Regions from separate parts of the Homo sapiens genome. Here all the other regions are linked to region 1. Evidence: fine-mapped expression QTL. A gene starts in region 1. Each other region holds a variant in brackets. All regions are shown on one strand. Distances are between the middles of the regions. Region 1 holds the start of ENPP4 (ectonucleotide pyrophosphatase/phosphodiesterase 4). Region 2 has its middle 5.6 kb from the start of ENPP5. Region 3 holds the start of LOC105375079 (a long non-coding RNA gene).

Region 1 (10,616 bases):
CCCACGTGCTCAATGTCATCACGTGTTGGACTCCAGCTCTTGGCTTTGCTTTCTTCTCAGGTAGACTTTCCCTTTACAGTGACAATGATGGCCACCAGCAGCTTCAGTGATTGCTAAATAGGTAGATTATCAACAATTGCCAAATAGGTAAGCTTATACTCTACCTATTTAGCAATTGTTGCTGAAACAGGGACTCTTTCCCAATTATTTCAACAAAAGTTTCAGAATTGAGTCTTTATGGCCTGGACTGAGGCATGTCCCCATCACTGAACTAATTCATGTGGTTAATGGAGTAAAATTGGCTCCAAAAGGCCAAGTTTGAGTCAGGCTTAGGGTGACCAACTCACCCCGATTTGCTTGTTGCTTTTCTGATTTTAGGATTAAAAATCCCATGTCCCAGGAACCTCTTCCATTTGGGACAAACCAAGATAGCTGGCACCTTAGGAGTCTGCCCCGTGGATGAGGGGAATTAACAGTCAGCCCCATCTGACTCCCATAGTCAAAGAATGAAGGTGGGTTTGTCTCTTGGAGGAATTGCCAGAAGGAGGAGGAATGAATGCTGGGCAGGCAAAAGCAAGAGAGTAATGTCCTCTCCATTCATTTTCTTAGATTAGAGGCACCTTGAGGGCAAGGAATTAATCTTACTTATTTTTGTATCTTTTGAAAAATTGAGCACATTGCTCTCCACATAGGAAAGCCTCAAAAGAATTTATACTGATTCTTTCACAGCTTTATTAAATATTTGAAAAAATTCCTTTAGAGTGAAGGTCTAACACAATAGTTCATGGTGGTTAATACAGAATCATTTTTTAAAGGAGCACTTAAAAATATTTTACAATCTTAACTTGATTGAGATTATTCCAATATAATCTTACTGAAAATGGAGTAGGTGAAAAGTTTTCACCAAAGGAACTTTCAAAATCACTAAAATGCAATGATTCATAAGGTCCTTTTCCCCTGTTATATTTAAGATAAAATCTGTATTACTTAAACATCTAATTTATATTAAAAAGTGAACCTTAAATACTCTCCTTGACATTCAATTATTTAGTTTCAGTTGTGTTGTTGTTTAATTAGAACTGAGCAGTGGACAGGAATTGTTTTTCTTTGGGAAGCGTGTGGCTTTTGCTCTGAAACCTTCTTCCTGTAACTTCTAACTTCTGACCTTCTCCTGGCCAGCAATGAGTTATACATCACAATTAGGAGTATAAAAGAGAAATAATTGTATAGAGAGCTATGTCTTAAATTTTGAAAACAGGATAAGATTTTTAAAATATTTTGTGTTAATGAATAAATGTTCAGTCTTGAGCGTAGTTCATGGGAGAAAAAGAAACTGCCTTTGACATGCTGCTTCCAAATCTGACATTGCCCCATAGAGGCAAATGCTCTAGTTGTACTTAGTTTTTGTGTATTGATAAATAATATTTCTATACATTTATAGGGCAGATGTGATATTTTGTTACATGCATTGAACGTGTAACAATCCAGTCAGGGTATTTAGGGTATCCATTACCTCGAGTATTTATCATTTCTATGTGATGGGAACATTTCAAGTCCTGTCTTCTAGCTATTTTGAAATATAAAATACATTTAACTATAGTCACCCTACTCTCCTATCAAACATTAGAATATATTTCTTCTATCTAACTGTATGTTTGCTCAGTCATTTCTCTGTGGGGTATATTCATTTGTAAATAATAAGTTTAGACTATTGCCTCTAATTCATTTCAATCTCTAACATAAAATGGGTTTAAAGGCTCTCTATATTTCCAAAATTTATATAAAATTCCCTTTGCAAAAGCTGAGCTGAAAGAACATTATAAATGAATATTATTTTGCCTACCTAAATAAAACAACACTTATGCCTAAAAATCACATTGTAAATAAGAAATTTATGTTACTATTATGTTTTCTTTTATTATCATTAAAGTTCTACAATGAAACTATAGTGAACTTTGTGGCCGGCTTCCCAGCACCCATTCCAACTCATTTCCATTGAGAAAAAAAGTAAAGTTTGGGTGAGACCTCAGTTTAAGATGTGGACTGCATTGGTCTACAGGTAACCATATCCTTTGCTGGCTTAGATTTGGATATGTGACACAATTCTGTCCAAAGTGATTAAAGGAGACAGTTGCTGAAGACTTCTAAGAGACAGAAGAAATCTAGACGTCATTTCTATCACCCAGTGGAAGTGAAAAATGAATTACATGGTTCCTGTTGCTGCTGGTAGTTATATTTACCACTAAAGGAACCAGAAGTCTACTCTGTTAAAAGCCAAGTGTAAAGCTGCAAAGAACTGAGTACATTATGAAATCGTTGAGTTGCTAACTCAACCAGTCCTGAAGTCTGCCTTACCTCTGGACTTCTTGTTCCACAAGACGATAAATATCCTTACTATAACAGGATTTTGGTTGTGGTTGAAATGGTAAATATATAGAGGATAACAAAAGTTTAGGGCCAAAGGTCCTTATGTGTCATTTTGTCCCTCTGTTCCTGACCACTTTATCTTACAGAGCAAGAGCCCAGGTGGCATGAGACTCCCTAATTTAACCCAGCCACACAGGCAGTAGCAGTGGATAAAGAGAGTCCTCTCCTGATGCCCATCCAGCTGCTATCTTCACCACACATCTGACCTAGATGGCATTCAGTTTTGTCCACCCTTTAAGCATACATATGCACCTACTGAATGAACAAACAGGATATGCACAATACCCCCAAATGCCACAAAATTTAAGTTCTGCTAATCTTAAATGTTATGTCATTGGACATTACCTAAATTCCCCCAAAACTTGGCCTTACCCTGACTATTGTTCAAATTGGGGTACTTTTTTGGTCATAATGATAATAATCCCCAAAACAACATGTGTCAGATACTGTGCTGAATACTCTACTCGCTTTCCTCATTCATTTGATAGTAAGAGGTTGGTATTGTAACAAGACGCGTTTTGCAGATGAGGAAATGAAAGCTCAAATAGGTTGAGACACTGGCCCATGATTGCTCTGCTGGTGAGTGACAGAGTGAGTATTCAAACCAGGTTCTAGGGTCTGCAGGTTCTAGGGATTCAGCTACAGACCCACTACCATCCCCTCCAGCTCTGAAAGCCCATGGATCTAAGATGCCCATATTCACCAATGCACAGGCCAACCTGAGACTTAAAACTGGAATTAATTTATCAAGGCACAAACTAATAATCAACGGAATACATCTATTGCCAAATCATCTCCATGGCTGCTTCCAGATTGTTGGTAATAGCTATACTGTAAGGTTCAGACCAAGGGGACCAACGTCAGAATTTGTTATCTAAGGTCCAGTACTGCAGTTTACTAATCCAGGTACTGGATTTACAGCTATTAAATACTTAACACTTGAGGATATCACATGTGATTAATATTCTTAATTTATTTGTACTTTTTATTTGAGCTGGAGATACAGTAGTGAACAAGAAAGAAAATACCTTCTGGAGCCTGCATTTTAACAAGCGGGACAATTAAATTCAATAGTGATTTAGCAAGTACTTCTATACCAAGTTCTGTTTGGCACTACAGATAAAAAGAAAAAAGATGCTATCCTCTCACTGCCAAGTGTGCCTGGACAACCCAACTGTTAGCGAATAATTCTACTTCTGTTTGGTAACTGCTCTTTATGTTGGAAAGTTTAGTTACATTATTCTATTAAATAACCTTCCAATTAAAAGCAGGAGCACAATCCCACATACGCGTCTGTCAAAGTAAGCACCCATTTCTCAGCTGTAACTCATTACTGGTTCCCTGCCGCAGGCACTGTGCTGCTTTTAACCTTACTTGTAAACTATTACCTAACTTCCCCGGTAAAGGTGCTCGCTTATCCAGTAAGACGGACAGACGTCTATGGTAGATCCACGTTTCATTTATCCCAACTCACTGGAACTGGCTGAAGCTTCTCCAGACTTGTGCCGGACCTTGGTGCAGCCAAAGTTGCTTTCTCCGCGGCCACCTAAGCTGCCAGGTGCACATTAACTAAGTGGCAGAAGGCCATCGGCTTGGCAATTGCCTGAGGCCTTTCCGGGACTCGCTGGTTTTTAGGTTCCATGAAGGGCATCCAGATCTAGGATGATACGAAAAGTGCGTGGTGGGAGAGTGGAATCAACCTCTACTCTTAGGTCCGATACAACCCCTCCAAGCACCTGTCTAACCAATCGGAAAGAAAGTTACATTCAACGCTGGTTCTAGCATCCAATCCAAGGACGTGTTTCAGACTCTGCTGCCCGGTCCCAGCCAGCCCTGAGCTGGCGCCTTAGACGCTCGCCTGGCAGCTGCGCACACTCGGAGCGCCCCGAGCGGCGCAGATAGGGACGTTGGGGCTGTGCCCCGCGGCGCGGCGCCTGCCACTGCGCAGGCGCCTCAGGAAGAGCTCGGCATCGCCCCTCTTCCTCCAGGTCCCCCTTCCCCGCAACTTCCCACGAGTGCCAGGTGCCGCGAGCGCCGAGTTCCGCGCATTGGAAAGAAGCGACCGCGGCGGCTGGTGAGTACGCGCCTCGCGCGCTCGGCGTTCTGGGGGGCAATGTCACCCCCTCTCCAGTCCCCTAGGGGCTTTGAAAATAGAGATGGTGAGACCAGACCCTATGACCCACTCTCCCCCACTACACGCACATCCCCTGGGGCGCGGCGGGGACGTCCACGAAGGGACTCAAAGAGCCAGGGAGGTGGCGGGCCGAGGCGGAGGCCAGGAAGGGAAGAGGAAAGAAAAATTAGCAGGTGCTGGGGAAGGCAACCTGTGGTGTTAAGTGTGAAGGGAGGGAAGTCAGCCGAACGGTAGTGGAGGAACCTAAGGTGGGTCTGGGGTAAAATTGAGGGGAGCTGGGGCGGGGTCGCCAGGCTTTTGGTTTTAAAGGAGAACCACCCATGGCATCGACATCCGTCTGTCTGAATATTAGATTAGAGTTTATGTTAATTATAGATAATGATATTTAAGAACTAATTTCCTGGAAAACAAGCCAACCAAACAATAAAAGGTACATTTAAGTGCCTTTTTAAAGGGCTGGATTAAAAGCACGTAAGGACTTAAAAACAATGCTTCCTTTTCTTGTCACAACCACCCTATGAGATCATAGCATTCCCATTTTACAGATGACGAAAGTCAGGCTCAGAGAAGTGAAGGGACGCGTCCAACCAAGATTGTACAACTAGTGACAGGCAGATTCAGGTTTACACCAGATCTGACTCCAGAAGGGCTTTGCTTAATCAGGCAATCTTGTGGACCCAAGTCTGAAGGAAGATTTGCCAACTACTGTGAAATATCAACTGCTGGTTTCAGTATTATGAGCTTCTATTTCTTCTTTTTTCCCCTCAGAGATTGTTTCAATCTGTTTTAAGGAAATTAAGAGGCCTGCTGCACTTGTGCGTCTTCCCCCCACCTCCACTTAAATTAGTTACAGGATATAATTTGGAAGACATTTTTTTTTATGGTCTCAGGTCTTAGATTTATTTATTTATTAATTATTATTATTATACCTTAAGTTTTAGGGTACATGTGCACAATGTGCAGGTTAGTTACATATGTATATATGTGCCATGCTGGTGCGCTGCACCCACTAACCCATCATCTAGCATTAGGTATATCTCCCAATGCCATCCCTCCCCCTTCCCCCCACCCCACAACAGTCCCCAGAGTGTGATGTTCCCCTTCCTGTGTCCATGTGTTCTCATTGTTCAATTCCCACCTATGAGTGAGAATATGCAGTGTTTGGTTTTTTGTTCTTGCGATAGTTTACTGAGAATGGATTTCCAATTTCATCCATGTCCCTACAAAGGACATGAACTCATCATTTTTTATGGCTGCATAGTATTCCATGGTGTATATGTGCCACATTTTCTTAATCCAGTCTATCATTGTTGGACATTTGGCTTGGTTCCAAGTCTTTGCTATTGTGAATAATGCTGCAATGAACATATGTGTGCATGTGTCTTTATAGCAGCATGATTTATAGTCCTTTGGGTATATACCCAGTAATGGGATGGCTGGGTCAAATGGTATTTCTAGTTCTAGATCCCTGAGGAATCGCCACACTGACTTCCACAATGGTTGAACTAGTTTACAGTCCCACCAACAGTGTAAAAGTGTTCCTATTTCTCCACATCCTCTCCAGCACCTGTTGTGTCCTGACTTTTTAATGATTGCCATTCTAACTGGTGTGAGATGATATCTCATTGTGGTTTTGATTTGCACTTCTCTGATGGCCAGTGATGGTGAGCATTTTTTCATGTGTTTTTTGGCTGCATAAATGTCTTCTTTTGAGAAGTGTCTGTTCATGTCCTTCGCCCACTTTTTGATGGGGTTGTTTTTTTCTTGTAAATTTGTTTGAATTCATTGTAGATTCTGGATATTAGCCCTTTTTCAGATGAGTAGATTGTGAAAATTTTCTCCCATTTTGTAGGTTGCCTGTTCACTCTGATGGTAGTTTCTTTTGCTGTGCAGAAGCTCTTTAGTTTAATTAGATCCCATTTGTCAATTTTGGCTTTTGTTGCCGTTGCTTTTGGTGTTTTAGACATGAAGTCCTTGCCCATGCCTATGTCCTGAATGGTAATGCCTAGGTTTTCTTCTAGGGTTTTTATGGTTTTAGGTCTAACGTTTAAGTCTTTAATCCATCTTGAATTGATTGTTGTATAAGGTGTAAGGAAGGGATCCAGTTTCAGCTTTCTACATATGGCTAGCCAGTTTTCCCAGCACCATTTATGAAATAGGGAATACTTTCCCCATTGCTTGTTTTTCTCAGGTTTATCAAAGATTAGATAGTTGTAGATATGCGGCGTTATTTCTGAGGGCTCTGTTCTGTTCCATTGATCTATATCTCTGTTTTGGTACCAGTACCATGCTGTTTTGGTTACTGTGGACTTGTAGTATCGTTTGAAGTCAGGTAGTGTGATGCCTCCAGCTTTGTTCTTTTGGCTAAGGATTGACTTGGCGATGCGGGCTCTTTTTTGGTTCCATATGAACTTTAAAGTAGTTTTTTCCAATTCTGTGAAGAAAGTCATTGGTAGCTTGATGGGGATGGCATTGAATCTATAAATACCTTGGGCATTATGGCCATTTTCACGATATTGATTCTTCCTACCCATGAGCATGGAATGTTCTTCCATTTGTTTGTATCCTCTTTTATTTCCTTGAGCAGTGGTTTGTAGTTCTCCTTGAAGAGGTCCTTCACATCCCTTGTAAGTTGGATTCCTAGGTATTTTATTCTCTTTGAAGCAATTGTGAATGGGAGTTCACTCATGATTTGGCTGTTTGTCTGTTGTTGATGTATAAGAATGCTTGTGATTTTTGCACATTGATTTTGTATCCTGAGACTTTGCTGAAGTTGCTTATCAGCTTAAGGAGATTCTGGGCTGAGACAATGGGGTTTTCTAGATATACAATCATGTCGTCTGCAAACAGGGACAATTTGACTTAATTTGGAAGAAATTTTGATGAAAGGACAAGGAGTAATGGAGGGAGGTATTTTACTATGTAGAAAGTAAGATAAGTGTAAGTGTTTTGAAGCTGCTAGAAAACTTTGTGTATGCTAGAAATTTCTGTGTATTTTACAAAATTGGAGAATAATTTAGAATCCTACGATTTTTAAGACTAAGGAATTTTTAAGGAGTATATTTTTTTCCTTAGACTATAAGAAAGCAACTGATAATAATCTAAAGATAACTGCCTTATTTATAGTCATAGAATAAAGTTTTTAAAGGTGTATGAGAGTTTCATTGTATTACAGAGCAGATGGCGTGCTAATAGTGACAAATATCTTTCACCATATCCTGTAATGGTTTATACTCTCTTGGCTTCACATGGGCTAGGAATGCCAGTGAGAGTTGACTGCATTCCATCCAGGGAAGAACGTCTTCCCAGAGAAATTAGAAGGTAGTTTGTCCCCTGAATTGAAGACTAACTCATACTTCCATTTGTTGTAGGGATATTTGGTTGCAGTCCAGAGAGGTCTGCTTTTTTTCTTCTCTTTGACATCTTTTTGGTGTGAAAAATTACAGAATTTCTCTCAATGTTTTATACTGTAACAGTTTCATTCCCTGCAAACTTTATTTTCATTCCTTGGAAACTGCTTGAGAACTTCTCATTGTTGGTTTGTCTGTAGCTTAACACTCCCTATTAGAATGAGACAGAATGTGGCAGACATGGATCCGGCACTGCTAATAAAAGGTGTTCTATCAGGAAGAGTTCTGTTAATAGTTTGGAGATTATTATCAGACTTGTTAACTTGCTATTACTGGACTTGTAAACTTATTGAGGACATGAAATTAGTAAGAACACAGTGAAGCAACTGATTGCTTTCTGAGCCCGGCTAATCACTGGACTTTAGCTTCATCATAAGCAAAGTCATATGCAAGGTCATCATATGCGAAGAGATGAGACTAAATTATTCCTAATGTATTTTATAGTTTCACAATAATATTCTGCCTATCATAGTACAGTCTTGTTTTTTTTCCCAACATCTTTGTAACTAGAATGATAAAGGGAAACTAATTTTGAGGGCCTATTCTGTAACCTTTACACATCCTCATTTTACACACAAGGAAACAGAAGCCAAGAAAAGTTGGATCTACCCAAGATCACCCATCTACTAATTGTGAGTTCAGGTTCTGGGACCCTTCTGACTTCAGTCTATAGTCTTTCCACTTTGTCTGTACTACTTATCCTGAGAACAAGGACTGGGACGCTTGGATCCCAGCAGTGTGCTGAGGGATTACTGAGCCACAGGATTAACAGCATGTGTTCCTGGAGCATCCTTTTAACTCAAGATTTGAGGAAGAAGCATTTTGATTTGTGTTTTGTGGGAGAGGACGGACACAGGTTTTTGGTCTGTTTTGCACATGGGAAGTGGTATAAAACTTTCACATTAAAACACTCAAGTGTGTATTTTGGAGTATAAAATTCACTTTTTTGAGGTAAAATGAGATCAAAAATGTTTCCTGTTTTGTGGCAGGACATTTCAGATTACAATTTCACTTCCCTCTGCTCTTTTTTAAAAAATAATATTTTATTGAGATATAAATCACACACCATTCAATTCACTCATTTTAAGAGTACTGCTTTATGGAGCTGTGCAACTGTCATCACAATCAATTTGAAAACATTTTCATAACCCCAAAAATAAACTTTATACTTACTGGCATTTATTACCCATTTCCCCCCCAACCCCTGGCCCTAGATAGTTACTATAGTTACTTTTAGTCTCTATAGATTTGCCTGTTCTAGACATTTTATCTAAATGGAATCATATAATAAGTGATTTTTTGTGACTGCGTTCTTACATTTAGCGTATTTATCCAGGTTATAAAATGTGTTAGCACTTCCTTCCTTTTTGTGTCAAATAATATTTCATTATATGGATATATTACATTTTATTTATCCATTCATAAGTTAGTGCACATTGAGATGTTTCCACTTGATTCTTACAAATAATGCTGCTGTGAACATTTGTGTACAAGTTTTTGTGTGGACATATGTTTTCATTTCTCTTGAGCACATACCTAATAGTAGAATTGCTGGGTTATATGGTAGCCCTATGTTTAACCCTTTGAAGACTGCCAGAATATTTTCCAAAGTGGCTGTACCATTTCACATTTCCAGTAGCAGTTTATAAAGGTTTCAATTTCTCTATCAACACTTGTTGTTATCTATTTTATTTACTCATCCTTCGGGGTGTGAAATGGTACCTTATTGTGGGTTTGATTGCATTTCTCTGATGACTAATGCTGTTGAGCATCTTTTCATGTGCTAATTTGTCATTTGTGTCTTCTTTGGAGAAATATCTTTTTCAGCTCATGCTCATTTTTTGACTGGATTATCTGACTTTTATTATTGAGTTGTAGCAATTCTTTATATAGTCTAGATACAAATCTCTTCAGATATATGATTTGCAAATATTTTCTTCCATTCTCTGGGTTGTCTTTTCACTTTCTTGATGGTATCCTTTGAGGCACGAGACTTTTTAATTTTGAAGTCCAGTTTATTTCTCTTTTTTGGTCACTTGTGCTCTTGGTGTGGTATCTAAGAAGGCTCTGTTGAACCCAGGGTTACAAAAATGTACTCCCACATTTACTCCTACATTTTCTTTTAAGAGTTTTACAGTTTTAGCTATTAATCTAGGTCTGTGATCTACTTTGAATGAGTTTTTGTGTATGGTATGAGGCAGGGCTTCAATTTCTTTTGCATGTGGATATCCAGTTGTCCCTCTACCATTTGTTGAATTGTCTTGGCACCCCTCTGCTCTTAGAGGTAAATCTACTGGAAAATTTTTGGACATACTGTGATATTCCATTTGTAGTAATTTCTCTAACACCTTAGCTTTTAAAATAATACATTATGGTGTATGAATCTCAAACACACTGTTACAAATATGTACTCATAAATTTATGAGTATTTTTCCCCGTGAGAAGATACTGTGCCACCTATTTGCTGATTTAAGTCTATTCTGTTATTTGGTGTTGTAGAACAAAATTGATTAAAGTGTAAAGCCTGTCTTTCTTTTTCCAGTTGGCAGCCTGATTTATTATTTTGGTTCTTTATGCTCCTGTTTTGATTATTATATATTTGAAAAGTATAAGTTCTTTGTCCCCTAATACATGGCACATACATA
Region 2 (10,616 bases), 46 kb after region 1:
TCAGTGATGCTGAGAGATTATTGCGTGTTACCCCAATGGTGGGTGTACTCTAACAGTCACTGTTTTTTGTTTAAAAGCGACTTGTATTCTCTGATTTCTTATCCCAGGCTTTTTTCCTTCCCCCGCCCCCCGCCCCCTGCCTTGTCACGAATTGGCGATGGGGCACACCATGGGCTTTGCTCTGAGGAACACCTGCACACCCGAGGATGCCAATGGGACGATGAAGTTTCATTCTTTTTATTAGTGGGTGTTATCTGCTTTACCTCAGAAAGAATTTATTAACCTAGTCAACTCTGCAGCCCCAACGTTTGCAGTCCAGGTTTTTGCAATTGAGGTCCCTGAGGTATATTTGTGGTGTACCTAGCATGGCACCTGAAATTGTGCGAATTAAACCAAGACAGGTTCAGAATTAGGTTAATTTGCACAGGAGAGAGGCTGAACAGCCACCCTCTCTGGTGGTGGCATCCGAGCTCCAGACTCTGTTTCTACCTTTGTTTGCAAAGTAAACATTAAAACTACAAACATCAGGCCTGATTACTCTTTCAGAAAGCCTTCAGTGCTTCTTGTGTGTTAGTGCCCCTATTTTGTCTTTTTCCGTACTGTAGTGGATTATTTTCTCAGTTTTTTTGGGATAATCAATGGCATTTTTAGGCCTGAGGGAGTGTAGGCAGGTACTTAGTTTGCCAGTATGATCCCAACTGTCTTTACCATAAATTATAGCAGTGATATCAAACTACCCTGAAAGAATTTGTCCATCTACACAATCCCAGCTAGAATTCTGACCTAATTAGAATTCTAGTTCTATCTGCAGTAGGCAATAATATCAGGTTGATTGTTACAATGTAAGTTTAACATCTAATTAGCTGGTAAAACTGGGAGCATATCTGCAATGGTGGTTTTGGCTCCTGCCCGGAGCTCGGATCCCTTGTCTGGTGTGCTGGAGCTTTAAAGTGAATAGAGATATCTGTTGATATTTAATTAAGCCATGCAAACATTTTGGTCATAGCTTTTTCTCTGTCTGCTTCTAATAGAGGGACAATCTCAACCCCAAACATTGTTACCTCCTAACTGGGTCATCCCATCCCGAAGGGCATCTGGGCACTCTTCCATGGCCTTTTATTCGTGGTAACTTGAGTTTATGGTTTTCAACACGTGGGATGGGGATTAAGAGGGAGGCTGGTTTCTATGTTTAGTGAGACCCAAACACAATGAAGTTGAACAAGTTGTTCCAATTCCCCAAAGCCCTGTCCTTTGAAATTGCCCAAACTTGGAACAGAGTGGTCCAATCTTGTAAGTCCTTGTCCCCCAGAATAGGTCAACTCTGTGCTCTCCCAAAACACTCAAAGGACAATGTACGCTTATCAGAGAGCAGGAGTGGTGAAAATGGGCCTGACTTTTGTTCGGATCACTGAACATTGTTGGACTCTGTTTGGATGACAACCTGCTTTGCTCTGCAAATTTTATGGAAGTTATGATTATATTCACCAGCTATTCCTGTGAAATAGGCATGGTACAGCTGGTAACCACAGTGCACAACACAGAAAAGTGCTCATAAGACTGCCAGATTCCTCCCAGAAGTCCATATAATGATATCTAATGTTCACCTGATAGGCTTGCTATTACCTTATGTTGTTCATGGGGAGAAAGTCTGGTTTACATAGTATAGAGGAATGAATGTAAAACATGAGATTCCTGCTCCCACATCTGCACCTGCCCTCCTGTCTTATTGTTGCCTCAGTATCTGTCTATTTGCAATAGGTTTTCAGAAAGTTTTAGCAGCAGAAACCACAACCTGCTATTGACTGTAACTATTCTTTTATTCTCTGTTATTAAATTAGTGGAATTCTAATTGAATAATAGTGTAACAGAATAACCAACTTCTTTCTTTCAAAGGTTTTGGGGTCAGGTGGGGAGGGAGATCCCTCTGCCTCCCCAAGGAAGTCTAATACAGGTTGAGAGAGGGACAATTTTCTTCGTCAGGGGCTGGAAGAGCTTTGTGCTAAAACTGAAAAGGGATCTGTTCTTTAAGAAACAACCAGAACTGGCTCTACCACAGAAGTCTTGTTTTTCAGAACTAGACTTCATGATAGGAAAAATAAACACATAATTTTACAATTAAAAAATTTTAAAGGTGCATTCCAGTACATTATACCACAAATGACTAAACTAAAAGAAAGTTCATCTTTTAATCCTTTGTAGAACATTCTGCAAAATGTGGGTCTCACATATTCAATGGCCATAGATAGGAACCACTGGGATTCTGCTTCTGCACTGCTCTTAATTCATGATAAACAGTGGTCTTCACTAATCTTGACTCATTAGCAGAAGTTCAGTCCAATGAGTGAAATGTTGAATTATAGAATAGTCAAAAACTTAGCCCAAGAATTTTTATGCATATTAATAAATTAGGCTTCTAGTGATATGCTTGAACTAATTAGAATGAATTTTGTAGAAGCAATTATTATGCTTTTATCCTCAGAAAGCTTTATATAAGTCAAATATAAACCTATTTGTATTGTTGTATTCTGTAAATTGTATTCATAGTGTTTTAGTTCTAGGACTGCCTTAACAAATTATCACAAACTGGGTGACTTACGACAAACAGAAATGTATTCTCACATAGTTCTGGAGGTCAGAAGTCTGAAATCAAGATGTATTCAGGGCCATGCTCTCTCCGAGACTCTGAGAAGAATCCTTGCTTGGCCCTAACAGCTGCTGGGGATTCTGGTATTCCTTGGCTTGCTGCAGCCTAGCTCCAATCTCTGCCTCTCCTGTCACAGGATGCTCTACTCTGTGTGTCCCTGTGTCACGTGGCCTTCTTATAAGAACACCAGTCATTGGGATTAAGGCCCTCTTCAGCCCAGTATGGCTTCATCTAAATTTAATTACATATGCAAAGATCCTACTTCCAAATAAGGTCACATTCTGAGGTTCCGGGTGAATGTGTATTTCGGAAGGACACTTATTCAACCCAGTATATATAGCTAGCAGAAAGTTTAATTTTATGGCCCAGCCTAGATCAAAAGTTGATGGATTACTAATAAAATGGCTCAAATCAAGGTAACTGACAACATCTGATACTGACAAGGATTCAGAGCTATAATATATTGCTGGACTATCATACACTGCTGGTGGGAATGGACTTCCACTATGGAAGTCAGTTTTGAAGTTTCTTATAAAGTTAAATATACACGTGACATACAACCCAGGAATCTCACTCCTGAGTATTTATCTAAGAGAAATGAAGACAGACGTCCACTGAAAAACCGGTCAACAACTTTTTACAGCAGCTTTATTCATAATCATGTAAAGCTAGAAACCATCCAAATGTCCCTCAACTAGTGAATAAACAAATTGTAGTGTGTCCGTAAATGCAGTACTGTTTGGCAGTAAGAAGGAATACAGAACTCATGCATGCAACAACATGGATGAATCTCAAAAGCGTTTTTCTAGGTGAACGAAGCCAGACACAAATGGCCATACACTGTGTGATTCTGTTTATATGATATTCTAGAAAGGGCAACAATGGAAATAGAAACCAAATCAGCATTTGCCAAGGACTAGGGGTGAGGGGAGGGGATTGGCTAGAAAGGGGCACAAAGAATTTTTTTATGTGATAGAATTTTGATTGCTTTTGTAGTCACATCACTAAGTTTGTCAATATTCAGAGAACTATGTGCCTAAAAATGTTTAATTTTACTGTGTGGAAATTATACCTCAGTAAACAGCAGCAACAATAAATAAACCCTACCCTGCGATAATACCTCACACCTCACCAAAGTTCACAAATTGGTGCTGGTGGTGTTTGACTCTCAGTGGCCTTTCCTGTGTGTACGGGTGTATACCAGTTCTTCCTGCAGGGTGTGAGTGCTTGCAAGTGCAGGAGCTCCACGGGGCCTGCTCTGCTGGGTGTCATTCCTTTTCCCTCATGAATGAAGTCAGGAAACTATGAAGTAAAACCAAAACAAGGCTAAACAATTATTTTCTTTTTCTTTTCTTTCTTTCTTTCTTTTTCTTTTTCTTTTCTTTTTTTTTTTTTTTGGGATAGAGTCTTGCTCTGTCGCCCAGGCTGGAGTGCCGTGGTGTGATCTTGGCTCACTGCAACCTCTGCCTCCCAGATTCAAGCAATTCTCCTGCCTCAACCTCCCGAGTAGCTGGGATTACGGACACGCGCCACCACACCAGGCTAAATTTTTATATTTTGCGAATCACAAAGTCAGGAGTTCGAGACCAGCCTGGCCAACATGGTAAAACCCCGTCTCTACTACAAATATTTTCTAGGCCATAACTGAATGTCATTTGTTGAATAACTAACTCAGTGCAGGATGCAGTCATATAGCAGGAGAGATAGTCATCTTTTGGTGTTGGTTTGAGGCCTATTTTGTAAGACATATTCTCAGGAGCCAAATACGAAACTGCACATGTGTTTGTGGTATATGGGGTGAAAACATTTTGTTAAAACCACATTCTCAGTTCTTTGTAAAGCACATAACACCCCTTAGATGCCTGAACATACTTAGTTTAACATCACTATTTAAAAACTTATTGGCTCCTTATGGGTATTGTAATTCTGTAAATTTACTAGCAGTGGGGGAGGACCTAAAAATATTGTCCTCTATCCAGATCAAAAATACATTTTTCCACTCTAGGTATTTGCACTTAAAATGTAAATGTAAATATTCTTTGCAACAATTTTGTAGCTTGAGGTTGCACCAAGGAATTCTTTGGTAAGTGTGAATCTTTATGAACAGGCCAAGCAGGCAGCAAGTGCTTTATGCCTTTAAGGTGTTCTTGGCAGGGAAGGGGCGGGGGATGTCATGGGAGAGTTCTCCCTGCCCAATTCCTGGATGGTTGCAATTTCATAATTGGAAATTAATCTCTTAGCCTTAAGGCTTTTCTCTCAGGAGAGATGTCATATGCACCACCTCTATTAGCTATTTATATACACGTGTGTGACTAAGGTTGTCTGATTCGCTCCAATTTGCATAATTGGTTGGGGAGAAAAGCCCTTAGAAGAATGCAGGTGGGTTCTGTCTTTCAAAGGTTAGTAAATACAGGGGGCAGCTCTAGAGGAAAGTGAAAACAGAAAAAGGAAGGGGAGCAGACTCTAAGCTGGCATCCCTCATAATTTGCTCAAAGCTAGTCCTGTTCTTTGCCCATCATTAAGCAGCAGATCACTGTAGGGAAGTCCGAAGTCATAGGCAACAGAGGAACCTGGCTTATGAAGGTGCTCTGATTTGACCTTTGTAAAATTTTGAATAGCCTTTCATCTAGAAAATGCATGTAATGTATAAAATCCTTGAGAGCTTTGCTATTCTTCTAGTCACTTTCATCCTTACTCCTCCACACCTGTTGTCTGATTCCACAAAGGACTCCATCCTCCCACACCTTGCTTGGGCAATCTCCTGACCTATATACTTCTCTGCTTTCTAATGAGAACCCTATTTTGTAGGAAAATCCATTCAGTGTGAATGGATTTATGCTGATCTACTCATCTATTCTTGCTAGGACATACTACATGTTGGGGTTCTTTGGCCAGAGTTAGCTGTTCTAGTCATGGTGATGGGGCTGTTTTAAAATAACAGGCTGATTTAACCCGTTATTTTATTTTATTTTATTTTTGAGATGGAGTCTCCCTCTGTTGCCCAGGCTGGACTGCAGTAGCGAGATCTCAGCTCACTGCAACCTCTGCCTCCCAGGTTCAAGCGATTCTCCTGCCTCAGCCTCCC[G/A]AGTAGCTGGGATTTTAACCTGTTATTTTTTAAAAAAACAAAACAGGTTTATTCGTGATTTGCTTAACATAAAATGAAATGTGATTCATTTAATATAAATTTATCGATTTGAATTATACAATTCAGGGTTAACTGGCATTTTAAGGCCTCATTGGCCTGTTTCAACCAAGTGATGTAACTGAGAATGATCATCTGTGGAATCACTGAAATGTTCATTTATTCACAGGGTAATCATTGAGTCATGATTCTATTTTACACTCATATTGTGCTGCTGGTTTTTGAAATCCATTTTGAAGATGGTCAACAGCATTACTGAGTTCATTTCTCATGGCCGCACACTATGCTCAGTGAGAATTGGTGGCTTAACCAAAGCTGCATATCTAAACATTTGAAATCAGGGAAAAATAGAGTAAGTTCTACAACAGAGGAACAAACAAAAGTGATATAGAAGTGCATGGGACAGAGAAATTAGCTCTGACTGAAGAAGACATGGGTATTCCACCACAGAGGTAGGAATGGAGAGTCTGGTATTGAAGCAGAGCCTTGGAAGATGGTGGGATTTCAACGAAGCACGTGAAACAGAGAAGACTGTAAGAACATGCACCTGGTCAGAGGGCCCAGGTGTGCTTGTGAAGGGCCTAGAAAAACTGGTTTAGGAATTTGGGGTCAGTCCTGTGGGCAGTGGGGGGCAGTTGAAGGTTCTTGAGGAGGGGCATGTCATGACCAGAGCCACGAACATAATTCCTGAATCACAAGTGGTGCGAGGTGGCACAGTAGTTTAGCACCTTGACATTTATTTAATATCAATCTGTAATTGATATTAAAATTAACGTTGCTTCTTTGACTATCTCCTTTGGCAGGAACTACCAGTTGTCATACCATACCAAGGCTAACCCATTCTTATGACCTTTCTACTGAAAAATGTAAAGCACTTTGGCTTTTTGTTTACTGCATATTGAGAGGCAGTGAGCATTTCTCTTCTTGTTTCTTCTTGGCAACATCTATTAGCCTGTTCCTAATGCACTGTGTGGCATAGCTTATTAGGTTGTGTTTTTGGTGTTACCCCAATTTTGGGATATGAATCTGTCATTAAAACACAGCCCTGTGAGTCAGAAAAAATAGACATGTTAGTGTGAATGAATGTATACTTTCTGGTCATTTTGAGAGGTGACATCATTGTCATATACTATACTTTTTTTGTAATATTTTGTTAATCACAAAGTGAATAGTGAAGGGGATGGTGTGCAAGACAAGGGAAAATGTTGGAGGGGCATTTCAAAACTTGCCAGAGTGTGTAGTATAATTTCATTGAAAAAAATGATAACAAATCAACTCCACTAAACAACTGTATGTAGGAGTAGGAAGAGTAGAAAAGAGATGGGTGGCAGAGAAACAATTTTAAAGCCAGAAAAATGGTCTGTATGGGTGGTGAAGGTATTATAGTATGAAAGGAGTACATAACAATATTACTAGAATTATAATAACAATGCTTATTAATTAGTGGCAACCAAATAGCAGACACTGTGCAAAGCAACACATACTCCTTATGTCACTTAGTTCTTATCATAACCCTGTGAAATACAAATGAGTCTTTTCCTATGCCAGCTCAGGAAAGAAAATCCCAGAGAGATTAACTCACTGAAGATCACTCAACTAGTAAATAGCAGAACTGGACTGCTCATTAATCTCAGTAAGACCCAGAGGGGAACACGAGAGAGACATTCTGGGGACAAAGTTGATCTTCGGACTGACACAAACTTAGGTCCATAGAAACCATGCCCTGGGGGTTACTGACAAGTAGTCTGTGGACTTCATGTCAGAGTTGGGGATTCCAGATTCTCCAGGAGGTCCTCAATGGTAGAATCTGAACAGTGGAGAGCACAGTAGAGGAGTGTCTAAGCCCAGTTTTGGATCCATGAAGGGAAGATTTAGTATTTTGACAGCCAGTGGAATAACTCATTTCTATTATCAGGCCATGTGGGGATAGGGAGCTCTCGCAGCCTCTTCCTTCAACAGTCAGTAAACAGAAATGGTGTGAGAGAGACAAGCAAACAAGACTGGAGTTGCCATCCAGAGATGGGCACCCCTGTGATGGACATGGACCTTGGTATTAAAATGACCTTGGTTGAGGATGGCTGCTCAGTATTGAAATAAAAGGTAGACAGACTCATGAGTAGGGATTTGAAAACCTTGAAGGGTGGTTTATAGGAGGAAGCATGGGCATCAATAGTCAAGGCAGCATGATCATGACAGAATTGAGAGAGAGAGCCCTGGACTGCCTAAGTGAGGATCAGTCAATTCCAAACTATTTAATACTAAGGTGAGTAGCTGCTGTGATCCTAGCCCTGTGATGGGAACTGAGAAAGGTGGATACAGGGAGGAGTAAGATATACTTCCTGACTCCAAAGGGATGGAAACACTGCTTAAAGAGATGACACAAATGCACATGAAATCATTACAAATGGAAGAAAATTGTATTAAATCAAACACTAAATTGATGCTTTTTGAAGGTCTCATTTTTGTTTGGGGAAGAGTTATCCCTCCAATGTCTGAATGCTCAATAACATTCTGCCTTCCCAGTTCACCCTATTTTCATTTCCCTCTAAGCTGCTATGGGCTTTTTTCTTTTAGGAGATTCCACTACTAATGAATGCTTTGAAGAAATAGTATTAGTTTAGAGAGGAACAGTGGTGGTCACAGGACTGTCTTGGGAGGGGTTTTAGGCTACCTCCCATAATCTTCTTTATCACTTGTATAAAATCTCTATATAGAGCTTTGGGCAGAGCTTCGAGCAGCACACTTGATTGTCCACTTTGTATGGAAGGAAAAGTGACCTTAGGTAGCAATAGGTAGTGGCGAATGATTTGGCTAGTTTGTTCAGGGCCTGGAAGGACCAGAATGGGAAGAGTGAGGACAAGGAGGCAGGGGAAAGAGATATGTGGGCCCTATAGTTGGTGGGCACCAAGCATGCAGATCTGTCTGTCTTGTGGTGATGCCCAGCAAGCCTCTTTTGCAGAAGGGGATCTCAACCATCAGGTGGACAGGATGAGTAAACCTGTGGATGTCAGCCAACATTTCTTCCTGGTTATTGCAGTACCAGTGCAATTTGGCATTCAACGGTGGCAGGAATAGAAGTATGCAAACACCTAACAGAATGGGATTCAGTTCACAAAGGGCTTATCTAGCCAGTGCTGAATGTCAGCCTCAGAGACTGATGCTAACCCCTCAATTGAGGAAAACAGCAGCAATTTGTCCTTACCAGAGGTTACATCTACACCAAGTATGATTCAACACTTCAGCATGCCTGATCTATCAATATGGGATCTCACAACATTTCCTCAAATAGGGGACCAATTTTGCTGCAAAGGACATACAACAATGATTACAGGATTCACTGGTTCCACCATATATCCCATCACCCAGAAGCAGCTGGCCTAGCTGAATGATGCAATGGGCTTAAAGGCTCAGCTAAGTGGCCCTCTCCGAGAACACATTCTGAAGGTTAGAGCATGATCCTCAATTTTGGGGTATATGCATTGAAATAAGGACTGATACATGATGCTCTATCCTTAATGGTTAGAAAACAGGTCTGGTAACCAAGGAAATAGAAGTGATCCCTACATGATCATCCCCAGTGACCTATTTGTGAAATTTGTTCTTCCTGTCTTCTAACCTTAGGCTCTGTTAGGTTAGAGAACATCGTTCCCAGTAAGGGCTATGTCTCCACCAGCAAAGTGAGGATTCTACTGAATTTGAAGCTGGGTCTACCACCTGGCCATCTTGGACTCCTCATGCCAGTGGATCAGAAGGGAGTTATAGTAATGTTGGGGTAAGTAACCTGCTTTTCTTGAGGGGAGAGGGTTGATACTACATAATGGGAACAGAGAGGAATATGCTTACTTGTATATCTTCTATCTCTTTATTCTTCTGATTGCCGAGAGATTGCCTCTTTGTCTGATTTTCTAATTCACAAATTTATTCTTTAGCTGTTTCTATCCTTTCTTTATCCCACCTTTGGTGTAGTTTTTCAGCTATTATACCTCATATATTTTCATTTTTAATGATTTTTTATTCTTCTTCATATTACTAATAGCTTGTTACATCTCTTTAAGTATATTTATCATGTTTACATAAAATTCTTGTTCTATCTCTTTTAACACTTTTGTTTCAAATGGTATATCTTAAAGATTTTTGGATTTTTTGAGGTAGTTTTAAATTGCATTATTATTTTGGATTTTTAATTTAGATTTCTCTTTAAATGTTTTAATAAGTAGTGGGGAAGGGCTGAAGGCCAGGTCCTAGCCTAAGCTAAGTTATCCTGATCCAGTTAAGGATAAGTGAGGGTCTAATGCCTGAAGGCAGATGCTTATTCCTATAGACTATCTTGGGCAGATGCTTATTGCTATAGACTATCTTTCAAGATTCTCAAACTCCTATCCACAGATCTTTCCGCCATTTAAAATTAGTTCTTGTGTGTGGTGTGAAATAGAGTGTAAGTGCAAATAGGAGTCTAAGTTAAAGAAAAAATTTTTTAATAGCCAATTGTTCCAGTACAATTTTTAAAAGGTATTTTATTTGCTTTTAAATTGCTTTGGTTCCTTTATCATAAACAATTTGCTTTATAAGCATGGATCTATTTCTGGCCTCTCAATTCTAGCTCATTGACCTGTTTGTCTGTCTTCTTATCAATACTACATTGTCTTGATTACCAAAGCTTTGTAATAAGTCTTGAGGTGAGGTAGTGTGAGTTCTCCAACATTGCTCTTTCTCAAGATTGTTTTGACTATTTTAGGTCCTTTGCCTTTTCATATAAATGTTAAAATCAGCTTTTCTATGATCCTTTTTCTATCTATTATTTTTCTATAAAAATGCTGGTCTGGCATGTAA
Region 3 (10,616 bases), 87 kb after region 1:
AAAAGCCCAAATTATTCTTTTTTTTTTATTATACTTCAAGTTTTAGGGTACATGTGCACATTGTGCAAGTTAGTTACATATGTATACATGTACCATGCTGGTGCGCTACACCCACTAACTCGTCATCTAGCATTAGGTATATCTCCAAATGCTATCCCTCCCCCCTCCCCCCACCCCACCACAGTCCCCAGAGTGTGATGTTCCCCTTCCTATGTCCATGTGATCTCATTGTTCAATTCCCACCTATGAGTGAGAATATGCGGTGTTTGGTTTTTTGTTCTTGCGAGAGTTTACTGAGAATGATGATTTCCAATTTCATCCATGTCCCTACAAAGGACATGAACTCATCATTTTTTATGGCTACATAGTATTCCATGGTGTATATGTGCCACATTTTCTTAATCCAGTCTATCATTGTTGGACATTTGGGTTGGTTCCAAGTCTTTGCTATTGTGAATAGTGCCGCAATAAACATACATGTGCATGTGTCTTTATAGCAGCAAGATTTATAGTCCTTTGGGTATATACCCAGTAATGGGATGGCTGGGTCAAATGGTATTTCTAGTTCTAGATCCCTGAGGAATCGCCACACTGAATTCCGCAATGGTTGAACTAGTTTACAGTCCCACCAACAGTGTAAAAGTGTTCCTATTTCTCCACATCCTCTCCAGCACCTGTTGTTTCCTGACTTTTTAATGATTGCCATTCTAACTGGTGTGAGATGGTATCTCATTGTGGTTTTGATTTGCATTTCTCTGATGGCCAGTGATGGTGAGCATTTTTTCATGTGTTTTTTGGTTGCATAAATGTCTTCTTTTGAGAAGTGTCTGTTCATGTCCTTCGCCCACTTTTTGATGGGGTTGTTTGTTTTATTCTTGTAAATTTGTTTGAGTTCATTGTAGATTCTGGATATTAGCCCTTTGTCAGATGAGTAGGTTGCGAAAATTTTCTCCCATTTTGTAGGTTGCCTGTTCACTCTGATGGTAGTTTCTTTTGCTGTGCAGAAGCTCTTTAGTTTAATTAGATCCCATTTGTCAATTTTGGCTTTTGTTGCCATTGCTTTTGGTGTTTTGGACATGAAGTCCTTGCCCATGCCTATGTCCTGAATGGTGATGCCTAGGTTTTCTTCTAGAGTTTTTATGGTTTTAGGTCTAACGTTTAAGTCTTTAATCCATCTTGAATTGATTTTTGTATAAGGTGTAAGGAAGGGATCCAGTTTCAGCTTTCTACATATGGCTAGCCAGTTTTCCCAGCACCATTTATGAAATAGGGAAACCTTTCCCCATTGCTTGTTTTTCTCAGGTTTGTCAAAGATCAGACAGTTGTAGATATGCGGCATTATTTCTGAGGGCTCTGTTCTGTTCCATTGATGTATATCTCTGTTTTGGTACCAGTACCATGCTGTTTTGGTTACTGTAGCCTTGTAGTATAGTTTGAAGTCAGGTAGTGTGATGCCTCCAGCTTTGTAGGCCATTACATAATGGTAAAGGGATCAATTCACCAAGAAGAGCTAACTATCCTAAATATATATGCACCCAATACAGGAGCACCCAGATTCATAAAGCAAGTCCTGAGTGACCTACAAAGAGACTTAGACTCCCACACATTAATAATGGGAGACTTTAACACCCCACTGTCAACATTAGACAGATCAACGAGACAGAAAGTCAACAAGGATACCCAGGAATTGAACTCAGCTCTGCACCAAGCAGACCTAATAGACATCTACAGAACTCTCCACCCCAAATCAACAGAATATACATTTTTTTCAGCACCACACCACACCTATTCCAAAATTGACCACATAGTTGGAAGTAAAGCTCTCCTCAGCAAATGTAAAAGAACAGAAATTATAACAAACTATCTCTCAGACCACAGTGCAATCAAACTAGAACTCAGGATTAAGAATCTCACTCAAAACCGCTCAACTACATGGAAACTGAACAACCTGCTCCTGAATGACTACTGGGTACATAACGAAATGAAGGCAGAAATAAAGATGTTCTTTGAAACCAACGAGAACAAAGACACAACATACCAGAATCTCTGGGACGCATTCAAAGCAGTGTGTAGAGGGAAATTTATACCACTAAATGCCCACAAGAGAAAGCAGGAAAGATCCAAAATTGACACCCTAACATCACAATTAAAAGAACTAGAAAAGCAAGAGCAAACACATTCAAAAGCTAGCAGAAGGCAAGAAATAACTAAAATCAGAGCAGATCTGAAGGAAATAGAGACACAAAAAAATGCTTCAAAAAATTCATGAATCCAGGAGCTGGTTTTTTGAAAGGATCAACAAAATTGATAGACCGCTAGCAAGACTAATAAAGAAAAAAAGAGAGAAGAATCAAATAGACACAATAAAAAATGATAAAGGGGATATCACCACCGATCCCACAGAAATATTATGTTTTCTTTATTTTTCAGTCAGCCACTCAGTGGAGAGTGAAGAAACCCCACTTAAGCTTGTTTGAGGAAGAGGAAAATCTGTTGCTTCAGGCATCTGAAAAGTCCAGGGGATATGAGTATCAGGTATAGTTTGGTCTAGGCACTCAAATAATAACATTAAACTCACTTCCCATCCCTCTTCTTCTCTTTCAGCATTTCAGCTCTTCTTTTCTCCTGATTGCCTTCATTCTCAGGGAAAGATTATCCACATGGCAGCTTCTGGCACTAATGCCTGTCTGAGACCATCCTGTTACTCCCAGTAAAGCTAGGAGTGGCTATTCTCAGAACACTGGTGTACTCCTGGAATAATTGCCTTTCTGGAAATCACATTGTAGCTTATTCAGAAGCACTTTTAATAGAGATATTTGGAATGACCCTGGGCGGAAGTTTATCAGAACCTGGAGCATAGCAGCAATACCTGGAGATTCTATCGAAAACAGCAAGGCCAGCACAGTGGGTAAGAATGGACTGTGGACAGGAACAGAGGAGGAAGCTCAGTCAAATGAATTGCTGGGGGAAGGAAAATTATATGCTTTGAGCACTTTTTTTTGATGGGCATTTCATACACAGAGGCAGTTAAAAGTATGTGCTCTGCAATCATAGCCCTGCTGGGGATATATTAGGCGGTTGATCTTGAGTGCTTCTTAAACTTTAAAGTACTGGGAATCAAGGGAGGATCTTGTTAAAAGGCAGATTCTGTTTCAGTAGGCCAGGGGTGGCGCTTGAGACTCTGCGTCTCTAACCAGCTCCACGGGGGATGCAGATACTCCCGGGATGCAGATGCAGATGCTGCAGTGCGTAGAACATGCTTTGAGTACCAAGGACTTAGCTTTTCTGGGCTTTAGTTGCCTTACATGTAAAATGTGGGTATCAGTGCCTTCATCATAAGAGCATAGAGAGAATTAAATAAGAATGTAAAGAACTTGGCCAGGTGCAGTGGCTCAAGCCTGTAATCGCAGCAGTTCCGGAGGCCGAGGAGGGCGGATCACCTGAAGTTGGGAGTTCAAGAGCAGCCTGACCAACATGGTGAAACCCCATTTCTTCTAAAAAATATAAAATTAGCTGGGCATGGTGGCACATGCCTGTAATCCCAGCTACTTGGGGAGGCTGAGGCAGGAAAATCTCTTGAACCTGGGAGGCGGAGGTTGCGGTGAGCTGAGATCACACCATTGCACTCCAGCCTGGGCAACAAGAACAAAAGTCCGTCTCAAAAAAAAAAAAAAAAAAAAGAATGTAAAGAACTTTTAAGAGCTCTTGACACGGTGTAAGCACTCAAAAAATGCTGACTATTCTTTCTGAAGAATGGAAACAGTGAAGGTGCCATCATGAAGACTGAGGGTACAAATGCCAGGTGCTCTGTGTGGGGCCTGATGCATAAAGAGCTCTGGGTGAGGACTTCCTATGTACCCAGCACTTGATACTCTTTCTCATTCAATCCCTCCTAACTCTCTGAGACAGATACTATCATCCTTTACTTTTGATAAATGTGGAAACCAAAACTTAGGTTTAAAAAAACTGTCCAAGACCACAAGTTTACCAAGCAGCAGAGCTGGGGTTTAAACCTAGGTCTTGTGGCAGCAAAACTTGTGAATGTAGTTATTAACCGGCCCTCCAATAATAATTGTTACTGTTATTATCTTATTAAGTCCTCATGACAAAAGTGGATTTTTATGCCCATTTTACAGGAGAGGAAACTGAGTTGTAGGGACTATAGTAACTTGTCTAAAGTCGCTTGCACAATCTTCATCCCTTTCTCATATACAAGGTTGACAGGGAGGTGGTGACATCTTTTGAGGTGGCCTGAGGGTGGCACATGGGCCAGAATTTGGGTTCTACCCTCCCTGTTATAGACCCGTGTTTTTCATGAAGGCTCCTGACAACAGCTGAACAGGCATCCATTGTCCTCCTCACTCCACAGGGATGGTTGAGAGAAGCCCTCCTTTCTCCACTGAGGAACTTTGTGCCAAGTCACCTGCACGTCTACCCTACCTACCCCTGACCTGAACTCAGCAGGACAGCACAAAGAAAGCATGAAGAACTTTGCTGCACTGCTTTTGGAAAATATGCTAACCCCTAGCATAACCAATCCATCTTAAGAATGAAACAGCAGCGATTGATGGAAAAGAGTTGTACAATTCCGGGGCGCTCAAAGTGATGGAAGAAGCTATTGAGGATGATGTAAGTGTCAGGTTAGTTTTTCTAGGACTTAGACTCTGAGAGGGAGATGTACATGCAGGAGGTTTACTAGGGAGACTTTAGAGTCCTTACCTGTTGGGGATAAAGGCAGAGTTGAACTGAAATACCGGGCCTCAGCCTATCCCACAGGGATAGCTCTGGAGCTGGAGTGGCCCAAGGGAAGGCCTTCCTTGACTAGTCACTGGATGCAGGCTGTCCCTGAGGAGGGTGAGACCTTGGGTGGGGAGCATCTCTCCAGCTGAGTGCAATGCCTGGCCACTCAGCAGCGAGTCATGACCCACCAACCTTCCTAACATCTGGGGGCATGAGTGTTTCCACTCTGAAGTGGGGAGCTGGGACTCTGAAGTGGGGAGCTGGGACTCTGAAGTGGGGAACTGGGACTACAGCATCCACAACAGCACATCAGATGGATTATCAAGGTGTTGAACTTGGCAGCTTTGTACGGAAACTATAAATCTTGTTTTAAGAATAAAATACCCTACTGGCAAATCCAAAGATTGTTTGGGGAACAGTAATGATTTTCCTAATGATAGCAACTAGTCAAGGAGGCCCCATAGTCCTGTCCAACCCTAAAAGTTTTCTAACTCAATTATTGGTTGAGAATGGAAAATAACACAAAAGCACCAAGGAGGTATTGTGGATGAATTTTTTAGCACAAAGTGTTTCATCCATTTCTGCCTATTTTGGATTTCCTATTTCCAACCTGTACCAAATGTGCTTGCGTACACATACACACGACTAACCTTAAATATGGCTTCCTTTTAGAGACATAAAAAGCTCATGAATCAACTCCAAAAACATTTGCCCAGACTTTCTTTGAAAGGTGCAGATGAATGAGCTTGACAGAAAACTTTTTGCTTGAAATTTTCCCTTTCTCAGATTGCATAAATTTAAGGGGAAAGGCTGCCAAATGTTCAATGACGCTCAGCGTGGTGGCTTCTGGCAG[G/A]GACACTCTGTACCAGCAGCTAAATGAATGTTTCCCTGAATCACTGACTGACTTATCATCCTTTATCACCTGCTCTGTTCCCCTTTTTCTGCATTGAGGCTTTCTAAATGACGTGGGGAGGGGAAGTAAAAAAAAACTTTAGAACCACAAGACACTGCATATTGATGTTGGATATTGAGAATTCTTCTGGTGTTAATAGATAGGATTGCAGTGAGGAGCACGAGGCTATCAAAAGCTATCTTCAAGCCTAATGTGGGCAAGACCCGTCAAGCCCCAGTGCTACAGAGGATCTGGACATTTTGGGCTGTAGCTTTGTATTAGGAAACTTCTTGTTTGTGTTAGGATTTACCAATGAATTGGGTCATATAATTCCCTTTTTGAAACCCTTAAAATGAACTCAAACCCCCTAGCCTGGCCTATTAATAATAGGTTCTACTGAGCCTGCCTTCCTCCGCCACCTGCCTTCCAACCTCATCCTAAACTGTGCTCACCCTCACTCCCTGTGCCTCAGCCATACCAACAAAATCCTTCAGGCTCCTCCAACACGACAAGACAAGGCCTTTCCAGAGTCACAGCCTTCAGCCCTGCTGCCTGGAATGCTTTTCTCGCAGCATTTCCATGGCCAGTGCCTCCAGGTCGGCTTAAATGTTACCTCTTTAGAGAGGCCTTCCCTGACTATGATCCTCCACTTTTATTCTCTATTCTCATAGAGTACTTTTGGTTTTCTTCACTGTACTTACCTATGAGAATTTGTGGCCATTATTTGCTTGTTTATTTCTTATCTCTTTTCCATGCTAGACTCCACTCCCTGAAATGGCAGGGACAAAAGCTACCTTGTTCACCACTGAAAACCCAGTGTCAGGCACACAGTTTGTTACTTGAATGAACAGTGTTTCACCCAGAGCCTAAGTCCTGTGCTCTCTCATTTAAAAAGGAACACTTATTTATAGATTTTTAAATGAAGGCTTTGAAAATATGGAAATATCTCACAGACATGAGATGGGAGACGTACGTTTTTAGTATGAGGACATTCTAAACCCCCATCACAACTAATGGCTCCTTCTTCTCTGTCCTCAGGGAGAACAGCTTTTGTTTTAGTTGAGGTATAACTTACTGTAGTATATGGCACACATTTTAACTGAATTTTACATGGGTATACATCCATATGGAGATCAGGATCGAGATGTAGAATATTGATGGCACATTGGAAGGCTTCCACATGAGAGGGTTCCTCTCAGGCAGTACCATTCAAAAGGTAGCCACTGTACTGTGACAGGTCCCCCAACAGGTTACCGAAGGGTATAAGTCTGTTGCCTGAACTCTGAGGGCCGGACAGTGAGCCAAGACCCTGGTGCCGAGCTGAGGAGCAGGTGTCCCTGAGAAGCCAAACCTCCCAGAGAGTTTCTGAGGAACTACCAAGAAAAACAGTCTCATTGTTCAAACACGTAGGCAAAGAGCCAGGAAATTAGCTTAAAAGCAGTTTATGGATGGGAGGTGGGGCAGATCTCCAGAGCTATCCTGCCGCCATCCCAGAGTGCCCCGTATGTAAGTCCTAATAAACTCATCTACTCCTCATGCTGGACTTAGGTCTGAGTCCTTCTTTGGACTCTTAGCACTTTTTTTAGTTTGGGGGTGGTGTTGGGGGACCTTACAGTCCTAAGTGTTTTCATAATAGCCACTATTATTTCTATTTATATAGGCCAGTTTTGACTTTCTTAGCTTGCTAAAAGGAGTCATATACTATGTATTTTTTTCATGTCTAGTTTTTCTTTTTTGCTCAAAATATGATTTTGCGATCTATTCATGTTCATATATGTACCACTAGTTTATGTGTCTTATTGCTTTGTGACATTCCTTTGTGTGAGGATAGCACAGTTTATTCTATAGTTGAAGGACATTTGGGCTGTATCCAGTTAATGGCTATGATGAACAACTTTGCTAGGGACATTATTGTACAAGTATTTTGATAGATGTGTGCACTTGTATCTGCTAGGTGCATGCCCTGGAGTGAATTGCTCCCAGAGGCATGTTAGCTTTAGCAGATATTACCAAACAGTGCTGTGAAGTGAGCACCAGTTGACACTCCACCAGTGGTGCATGACAGTTCCCCTTCCTTCATATCCTTACCAGAACTTTTTATTTCTCCAGACTTAATTTTAGTCATTCTGATAGATCTGTGTAGTAGCTCTGAGATTATCATTTGCTTTTGTCAGATAAGCAATAAAATTGAGCATCTTTTGAATGCTAATGGGTCATCTGGGTATTTTGTGTATGTCTGTGTGTATGTGAATTGCCTGTATGAAGTGCCTTTGAAATTTTTTGATGATCAAAGAAATGGATTGTCTGTTTTCCTTATTTGTAGGGTTTTCTTTTTACATTTTGGATATAATTTATTTTACAACTACATGTGTCTCAAATATCCTTTTCCAGTCTGATGCTGTCCCTTTTCATTCTCCTAATACCCATCTGATGAACAGAAGCTCTTCATTTTAATGGCATTTAATGTATTAATCATTTAGATTATGATAGTGCTTTTCTCCTGAATAATAATTTTTTTGCTAACTCAGGTCTCTTATAGTGCTTTTAACAAGAGAATAGAGTGGGAAGACATTAAAAGAGGTTTTTAGTACACTTGAAATGGCTTTTAGGACCAAGATGTTGAAACATGGCAATAAAACAGGGAGCTCTCCCAGTTCCTCTTATCAGAGGCCAACCCTGCCCTCCAGGCCCTGCTCAAATTCCCCTTCCCCCAAGAGAGGGCTGCCAACCAGCTTCCCCCACTTTCAGGAAGAGCCTAGGTATATGGGTTAACCCCATACGTTGGGGACTTCTTAGAAAAACTCTAGGTTGAAATGCAGTCCCCCACAATTACCCCTCAAGAATATTCAACTCAGGTCGACAACACAGAAATTAAACCACATGGACAAAGAGTCATTCACCAGATATATTTGAAGTCTAAGCTCTTTGAGCTATACACGTGCACAAATGATTCAGTTGGTGGAAATCTTCCCCTTCCCCTTCATTGTTAAAGTTTTCAAACTTAAAATAGTGCTAAAGAGATTTGCATAATGTGCGTCATGGAAATGCTGAGGCGATTCTGACTTTCACAGTGCTAGGAGGTTCCCTTGCAACACTTCAAGGAGTCTTTCCATTTCTTATCGTTCTCCTAGGAAAAGCCCCTCTTTTCCCCCCTCCCCAAACCCAACCTAGTGAAAGAATTACTTGATCTGAGACAGGTTAACATTGACACAGAGCAATAAGTTTTACTAAGACTAACTCCAGAGGCCATACACTTCATTGTGTTTCTTTTATGACTACACAGAATGGTCATTTCAACTTTTACTAAGTTGTTAAAAATGTCAGATGTGTCTTTTAAAAAACATTTAAAAATCATTTTCAAATACTTTCTCTCATCTAGATTTCTTTAGAACCTGCATTCTGGAAATTCAGGGTAGCTTAAAAAATCAAGTCAAATGACCCACAGATGATTGAGAAGAGTCAGCTTTGAAAGGCTGGATGCTGCAGTGCTCTGCATCTGAATAGCGGAGCCTACTATTTCTTCCACTAGAGGACACCATTTCTCCACTACTAAGTCTGTAGTCGTTTATCATCAATGAAAAACCAAAAACCTCCACAGCAAAGGAAAGTCAAAGCATATGCTTATTGTACACTCCTCAGATTTTATTTTTAAAAGGAGTTTTCATTTTCCTTATGGAAACTCAGGATTTTACAAGCAATGCTCTCCTCAGTTTCACCAGTACTGTGTCCAGTACTATATTGCTATATTCACAGTAAAACGGACTTTAATTTCTGAGTGATCAGTCTATGTTTTAAGTTTCTGATGAAACTAACATACACCTTAGTCAAAAACCACAACAATCCCTCAATCTGTTTGCTGTGTTATTGTTCTTGTGTGTTTTTCTGAGGCTTGGGTAATGAAAGTACTTCCCCACTCCATTGTAATCTGCGTTTGCATCTAAAGTAATTCATTAATGTACAGGAGTAGATGAGGCCTGGCACACATAGCAGAAGGTAATGGTTCTATAGGTGTATCTTCTGTAATGCACTTTGGGCTAGAGAAATAGAAAAATCACACGTAACAAAAACAAATAACTTTTTTGAGCACACGGGTGTCGCGTGAGTAGGACCGGCATACATGTAGCTATCATCCTTCCCCATTTTAACATGCTCAGCTGCTGCTGCATTCTGGGGATTTAGCTTCATCCCAATAATCTACAACTGACACTTGCATCTTTATTTAAAAACAAGTGGTCTTGATAGCAAAGATGTTGGCTAATCATGTATATATTGGCATTAGATGTTTTGTGTCCTTTCAAAATTCAGCATTATCCTTATTAGAGTGTAATATTATCAGAGTATCTGTATTAGTATATGAAGGCATTCATAAGCAATGCACATTATGTTTTGAAGCAGCTAATTGTCGAACAATCACTAAATAAAAAACATCCAGATTTTTTAAAAGCACAGCTGAAACATTTGTACAAATATACAAAGAGAGAAAACAATCATTCAGACACCATGAAACTTTTGTAATAAATAGGTTTGTCTGAAATCAGTCTCTATCACCCTGGACAAGCCTCCCCAACGAGGCTGGGAGAGTTCTACAGGGGAGTGGTGTTTGAAATCTATTGAGGAATATCTTTGGGGCCAAGGTCAATTTTGCCTCCAGGAATTTCAACAGAGCTATGGTGTATTGACTCACAATAGTGAATATACCCAGACTTGTTGAGCTGGAATATTCTGATCATTTTCCTAATCTAGATAGGACATGGCTGGATGCTGACAATCTGTGAGTTATAAGATATCCTCAAATAATGAAAATAAATGCTGGTGATCATGCATGTCCTGGGAATGTTGGGATGCAGAGGACTGAGTGAGACCAGATAGGGATATCTCATGCAGTCAAAGTCAAGTTTACATATGGTCCTATTTAAGTGGCCAGGAGAGAACAACGCACACACATCAGGACTGGGACTGAAACAGCTCACAAACAACACAGGTG

The links. PIP is the estimated chance that this variant, and not a neighbour inherited with it, causes the effect.
Region 2: its variant is fine-mapped to the expression of ENPP4 in whole blood (GTEx, PIP above 0.99). The same link has a PIP of 0.9 or more in esophagus mucosa.
Region 3: its variant is fine-mapped to the expression of ENPP4 in tibial artery (GTEx, PIP above 0.99).

The regions. Positions count from the first base shown.
Region 1 is chr6:46,125,689-46,136,304 of GRCh38, forward strand. ENPP4 (ectonucleotide pyrophosphatase/phosphodiesterase 4) reads left to right here and starts at 4,301. Exons shown (of 4, transcript NM_014936.5): 1 at 4,301-4,501. It also overlaps a transcript of CLIC5 not described here.
Region 2 is chr6:46,171,259-46,181,874 of GRCh38, forward strand. No RefSeq gene overlaps it. Among named protein-coding and RNA genes, the nearest start is that of ENPP5, 5.6 kb to the left of the region's middle. The variant G/A (reference allele first, on the strand shown) is at 5,730.
Region 3 is chr6:46,212,213-46,222,828 of GRCh38, forward strand. It overlaps RCAN2 (regulator of calcineurin 2), which reads right to left. Exons shown (of 5, transcript NM_001251974.2): 5 at 8,524-10,616. It overlaps LOC105375079 (a long non-coding RNA gene), which reads left to right and starts at 7,093. Exons shown (of 5, transcript XR_001743802.3): 1 at 7,093-7,138. The variant G/A (reference allele first, on the strand shown) is at 5,594.